Linked DNA regions of Homo sapiens. The protein of the gene in region 1 interacts with the protein of each later gene in a pairwise test. Each region holds a gene or a part of one and is shown in the gene's direction. Other genes may lie near its edges. The genes, in order: TLR2 and TRIM58.

Region 1 (3,073 bases):
AAGTACTATAGTTTGAATAGCAGTGTCTCCTCCAAAATTCATATTGAAACTTAATCCCCATTGTAACAGTACTAATCCTAAAACTAAGTATTAAGAGGTGTGACCTGTGGGAAGTGACTAAGTCATGAGGGGTCTTTCCTCAGGTATGGGATTAGCATCCTTATAAAAGGCCTTGAGATGGAATGTAGTGCCCCCTTGCCCTCTTGCGTTCTCCCATGTGAGGACACAGCAACAAGGCACCATCTTGGAAGGAGAGAGAAGCCCTCACCAGACAACAGTGCACATGCCTTGATCTTAGACTTCCCAGCCTCCAGAGCTATAATAAATACATTTCTGTTCTTTATAAATTACTTGGTCTCTGGTATTTTGTTACAGAAGCACTAATGGACTAAGACAAAAAGATTCCATTATGAAAGTGAAAAGGCAACCGCAGAGTGGCAGAAGCTTTTGGAGATGATGAATATGTTTACTTCCTGGATTGCGGTGATGATACCATGAGTGTATACATATGTGTGTATACATAATGTATACAAATTGTGTTCATTGATTATGTACAGTTTCTTTGTATACCAATTATACCTTAATAAAGCTAAGGAAAAAAAAAAGAAAATCCAGAATAAATATGCATGGTATGACCCATTTATTTAAAAAAAAAAAGAGGGAATGCGAAGCAGTGGTTTTGGTGCGAACACAAAAATTCTGGCTTCAACAGCATTTAAATTCCCAAACCAAGCATGTTTGTGTTTTAATTCTTTGTGGCCATAAATTGTACAGCTCAGGCCTTTATAGTCTCTCAGATTCTGTGAATGTGGGGAATTAGTTTTACTCATAAAAAGTTTTGTTCTTGGGGATAAATTTTTTAAAAAAATTTTTGTATAGTTAGCACACTGAGAAAATACAGACAAAGGCATACAGATGCAAGAAATGAGGTAGCTGAATAGACCAAAGAATGATATAGGGCCCAGAAGGTAGGCAAAGAGAAAGTTGTTGGGTTTATGGTTACAAGTAAACTAGCAGTTGTGGTGCAGATAGTTTTATTTCCCCCACATTAATCTGAACAGCCCATCCAGACTTAAACACTGCTTTTTGCATTTACTTCTAGGCAGGAAGACAGGGTTCTGATGGTGTGAGTCTCCTTCAACTCAGCAAACCACCTTGGTCTGCCTCGAGTTTCCAACACCCCTCCTGCCTGCTAGTGATAGGTGTGAGGCAGGTTGATGAACATGGAACTTTTTTCTTTTGGTCCCAAAGCATGCTACTCCTGGAGTTTCATTCAGTGAATGAGAACTATAGTTTGGTTCTGTGAGATCTCTATGAATCAAGGCGGCCACTGAAGCGGAGAAAAGAAATGCTTAAATGTTAAGAAAGTTTGAAGTGCAGAAAAAGGTGATTGTAAATCCATATGGTTAAGCTTAGCCCATTTCTTAAAAGGCTTGATTGCTCATTCCTCCATTCATTGATTTACTCACTCTTCCAATCCATGTTATTGAGTCTTGCTCTGTAATTCCGGATGGTTGTGCTTTTAAGTACTGCATAGTGGTTGTATGTCTGTGTTAGCATTGCTGAATGTATCAGGGAATTCATTTTTTTATCCCCATTCATTCGTTCCATTCATCTGTTTCTCTCTCTCTCTCTCTTTGTGTGTGTGTGTGTGTGTGTGTGTGTGTGTGTGTGTGTGTGTGTTATGCCTAGAAAACATTTCTCAAGAATTAGAATTACGATATGCTGTCAAACACAATGACTTATTTGAACCTCTTTTATTTGTAGGTTGAAGCACTGGACAATGCCACATACTTTGTGGATGGTGTGGGTCTTGGGGGTCATCATCAGCCTCTCCAAGGAAGAATCCTCCAATCAGGCTTCTCTGTCTTGTGACCGCAATGGTATCTGCAAGGGCAGCTCAGGATCTTTAAACTCCATTCCCTCAGGGCTCACAGAAGCTGTAAAAAGCCTTGACCTGTCCAACAACAGGATCACCTACATTAGCAACAGTGACCTACAGAGGTGTGTGAACCTCCAGGCTCTGGTGCTGACATCCAATGGAATTAACACAATAGAGGAAGATTCTTTTTCTTCCCTGGGCAGTCTTGAACATTTAGACTTATCCTATAATTACTTATCTAATTTATCGTCTTCCTGGTTCAAGCCCCTTTCTTCTTTAACATTCTTAAACTTACTGGGAAATCCTTACAAAACCCTAGGGGAAACATCTCTTTTTTCTCATCTCACAAAATTGCAAATCCTGAGAGTGGGAAATATGGACACCTTCACTAAGATTCAAAGAAAAGATTTTGCTGGACTTACCTTCCTTGAGGAACTTGAGATTGATGCTTCAGATCTACAGAGCTATGAGCCAAAAAGTTTGAAGTCAATTCAGAATGTAAGTCATCTGATCCTTCATATGAAGCAGCATATTTTACTGCTGGAGATTTTTGTAGATGTTACAAGTTCCGTGGAATGTTTGGAACTGCGAGATACTGATTTGGACACTTTCCATTTTTCAGAACTATCCACTGGTGAAACAAATTCATTGATTAAAAAGTTTACATTTAGAAATGTGAAAATCACCGATGAAAGTTTGTTTCAGGTTATGAAACTTTTGAATCAGATTTCTGGATTGTTAGAATTAGAGTTTGATGACTGTACCCTTAATGGAGTTGGTAATTTTAGAGCATCTGATAATGACAGAGTTATAGATCCAGGTAAAGTGGAAACGTTAACAATCCGGAGGCTGCATATTCCAAGGTTTTACTTATTTTATGATCTGAGCACTTTATATTCACTTACAGAAAGAGTTAAAAGAATCACAGTAGAAAACAGTAAAGTTTTTCTGGTTCCTTGTTTACTTTCACAACATTTAAAATCATTAGAATACTTGGATCTCAGTGAAAATTTGATGGTTGAAGAATACTTGAAAAATTCAGCCTGTGAGGATGCCTGGCCCTCTCTACAAACTTTAATTTTAAGGCAAAATCATTTGGCATCATTGGAAAAAACCGGAGAGACTTTGCTCACTCTGAAAAACTTGACTAACATTGATATCAGTAAGAATAGTTTTCATTCTATGCCTGAA
Region 2 (3,833 bases), on another chromosome or scaffold:
TAATGTTTTAGTTTAGTTATGCTATCGTATATAACAATGCAGTGAGCATACTTTTAGATAAATATTTGATTGTATCTGGTATTAAAATACATTTAAGGAGCTAGGCCCAGTGGCTCATGCCTATAATCCCAGCACTTTGGAAGGCCAAGATGGGAGACTCTCTGGAGGCCAGCAGTTTGACACCAGCCTGGGCAATATAGTAAGACCCCATCTCTACAGAAAACAAAATTAGCTGAATGTAATGATGTGTGCCTGGAGTCCTAGCTGCTTGGGAGGCTGAGGTGGGAGGATCATTTGATCCCAGGAGTTTGAGGCTGCAGTGAGCCATGATCGCAACACTGCACAACCTGAGTGACAGAGCGAGACCCTGACACTAAAACTTAAGTACATTTATGTTTAGTTTTTAATGATATTGAACATTTTTATGTGCTTTCTAGGGACTGTTTAAGTTGACTTTTGTATTTCCTCACACATCTGTGTGACGTTAGGTACAGATTGAGGGCATCTGTAACAGCTGAAATGTTCCCAAACAGGTAAAGCTCCAGATGGCTCTGGAACTTATGAGGAAAGAGTTGGAGGACGCCTTGACTCAGGAGGCCAACGTGGGGAAAAAGACTGTCATTTGGAAGGTAAGACCATGTTGGGGCTTTAGGAGGCTTGCCTGTTTGAAGGATCCAGATTCGGGTCAGTAATTCTTCTACCATCTTCCATTCTCCAGCACTTTTGTTCCATCTCCATATATGCCCAAGAGCACCTCAGAGCCATCCTGGGTCATCCCGTCCCCTCAAATGATATGGTTCATTTTTGTTCTTTTTGTCTCTACTGCCATCACCCAATCCAAATTATAATTAAATAGCTTTGCTAGTTTGATCTTCCTGTAAAACCCACTGCTGTATCCCTGTCACCTAGAATAGCATCTTATACTGTTGCTACCAGTTTGAAAATATTTGTTAGGTGAATGAAATAATGAATATTTCACAACTTTGTAACAGAAGAAGTGTAGCCCAAGGTGATCATCTTATATACAGGGTAATAATCTGAACGTTTAGCCTTTTTTTTCTATCATCTATACATACACATATTCCATTTTTTTATACCTCACTAGCTCTTTTTATTCCATGTTTCATTCATGCACATGTGCGTGCACACGTGTACACACACACACAGTGATTCATACACACACAGTGATTCACATACACACACACACACAGTGATTCTCAACCTGAGGCGATACCTGCCCCCCAAGATAACATTTTGCAATTTCTGGAGATGATATTTTTGGATGTCACAACTGAGGAGGGGTGGGTGCAGTGCACCTGTCATCTAGTAGAGGCAGGAATGCAGCTTAACACCCTGTAGTCCACAGGACAGTTCCCATATCTTGTGAGGAAAAAATGATCTGTTCAAGATGTCAGTAGTGTCAAGATTGAGAAACTACGTATAGAAACTGTGTGTATAGTTCTATATATTCATATAATGTATTATATAATATGATATATAATAGGTTATACTTTGCAGAATATTCCTATTCTTTCTCCTTTTCCAAATAACCCTTCTTTTCTGATCACTCTATATATTTATAATTATTTCCTTCTTGTTTTCTTTGAAAATTTAGTCTTATACTCTGTCTTTATACAGATATTACATAAAGACTTTTTAAACTATATTTTTCTTTATTTACTACATTACTAGATTACAATATAGATATATACGGATAGGAAAAGATAACACTTATCCCAGAAGAAACATGTACATTAAGGCCAGGCGTGGTGGCTCACACCTGTAATCTCAGCACTTTGGGAAGCCGAAGCAGGTGGATCACCTGAGGTCAGGAGTTCGAGACCAGCCTGACCAACACGGAGAAACCCCGTCTCTACTAAAAATACAAAAAAAAATTAGCCAGGCGTGGTGGCACATGCCTATAATCCCAGCTACTCGGGAGGCTGAGGCAGGAGAATTGCTTGAACCTAGGAGGCAGAGGTTGTGGTGAGCTGAGATCGTGCCATTGCACTCCAGCCTGGGCAACAAGAGTGAAACTCTGTCTCAGACAAAAAAAGGAAAAAAGAAAAGAAAAATGTACATTATAGGTAAATGATGTAGATAGTGATAGGAAAGGATAAAAGTTATCAATATTAAATAATATTGATGTTAATAACATTAGTACCTAACGTTACTCAGATGTGTGAAGAAATATTTAAACTTATTAACGTTGATACTGACAAACTTATCAATATTATTAACAAATATCTTTAAACTAGTAGTGACAGTATAAGATGCAATTCTAGGTGATAGGGATATAGCAGTGGGTTCTGCAGTAAGATCAAGCTAGTAAAGCATAGTTTCGATTGGGTAGTGGCAATGGAGATAAAAAGAACAAGAACAAAGCTTTACAGTATTAAATAATGTTCATTACTTGCCTATAATGTACATAGTGGTAGGATGTACATTATTTAATATTGTAATATTGATTGATAATTTTTGTTCTTTTCAGGCTGAAATACAAGTCAGTTGTTTTCAATCCTGGCCTGACCATAGATCTATAAAATCAGAATCCCCATATCGGAGAGCTGAGTTCCTGCATGTTTTAAGCCCTCTACAGATTATTCTTAAGTAGGGATGATACTAAGATCCCTGTTCTAAGCCAAGTAAACTTGCATGATCATTACCATCAAGAATGTCTCCATGTGAGCCAAATGCAGCAAACACATCTTTGGTCAAAAGTTATTCTAAATACTGCAAAACCACCTTTCCTTTTTCTCTGTCTGCAGATATAGTTGTGCTCAAGAGGGTGGTGTGAAAGGAAGATGGATTGCAGGCAAATCGCTTCCCACCTTCCCACCTCACACCCCCTCGTGCCCCAGGTATGACTCTACCCTTCTCCAGTGGCTGCGTTATTTGCCCCACCCCACGACAGCACAGCCTCTGATATGAAGAGAGCTTCTCATATTTACATGAGTTACACTTTCAGGAATCAGTGTATGGAATTCAGACTTGGCTGATTTCAGAAAGAAGATGAAGTTTTCTGAATCTGGTGATTTAGAAAATGGTGGAAGGAGGTAGAGATGGAAAATGGAAGGAAGTAGTTAAGTCTTAGGGGATGTTTAGTTTAAAAAGGTGATAGCTCATGCCTTTTAGTCAAAGCAAGAAGTTATCACGTTTAAAAACAGGCAAATAGGCTGGGCACAGTGGCTCACGCCTGTAATCCCAGCACTTTGGGAGGCCGATGCGGGCCGATCGTGAGGTCAGGAGTTTGAGACCAGCCTGACCAATACGGTGAAACCCTGTCTCTACTAAAAATACAAAAATTAGCTGGGCATGGTGCTGCGTGCCTGTAATCCCACTTACTCGGGAGGCTGAGACAGGAGAATCACTTGAACCCAGGAGGAGGAGGTTGTAGTGAGCCGAGATCGCGCCACTGCACTCTAGCCTGGGTGACAGAGCGAGACTCTGTCTCAAAAAAAAGATTAAAAAAAAAACCAGGCAAATGACTTCACCTACAAGGCCGTATAACAATGTAACAAAACTGCATTTGTACCCCATGAATATATACAAAAAATAAAATAAATCGATAAAACAGGACAGAGAATGGGAGGTATAGATACTTTGAGGGAATAATTTACCTCTCGTACTCAGCTTAAAGTTAGTTTTCGATATACTTATCTTGAGAGAAGAAAATCTAGAAACTAAGCCTGGGACGAAGTATGTTCCTTAGGTCTATTCAGAAACTGAAGACGTGAGATTCAGGTAGAAATTGGGATTAATTCTCTGACGTGAACTCTGAAATCAGTGGCCTGAGCATCACTTAGTTCTTTCTTGGCTTTGTAGAGAATGTT

Evidence for each region.
Region 2: the proteins of TLR2 (region 1) and TRIM58 interact in a two-hybrid assay, tested with the Homo sapiens proteins (one large-scale study listed by BioGRID).

Annotation. Positions count from the first base shown.
Region 1 is NC_000004.12:153,701,125-153,704,197, forward strand, and holds part of TLR2 (toll-like receptor 2 precursor), read left to right. Parts: intron 1-1,102; exon of another isoform or gene 1,103-1,767; 5' UTR 1,768-1,783; coding exon 1,784-3,073. UniProt on the Homo sapiens protein: Cooperates with LY96 to mediate the innate immune response to bacterial lipoproteins and other microbial cell wall components. Cooperates with TLR1 or TLR6 to mediate the innate immune response to bacterial lipoproteins or lipopeptides.
Region 2 is NC_000001.11:247,860,084-247,863,916, forward strand, and holds part of TRIM58 (E3 ubiquitin-protein ligase TRIM58), read left to right. Parts: intron 1-533; coding exon 534-629; intron 630-3,833. UniProt on the Homo sapiens protein: E3 ubiquitin ligase induced during late erythropoiesis. Directly binds and ubiquitinates the intermediate chain of the microtubule motor dynein (DYNC1LI1/DYNC1LI2), stimulating the degradation of the dynein holoprotein complex.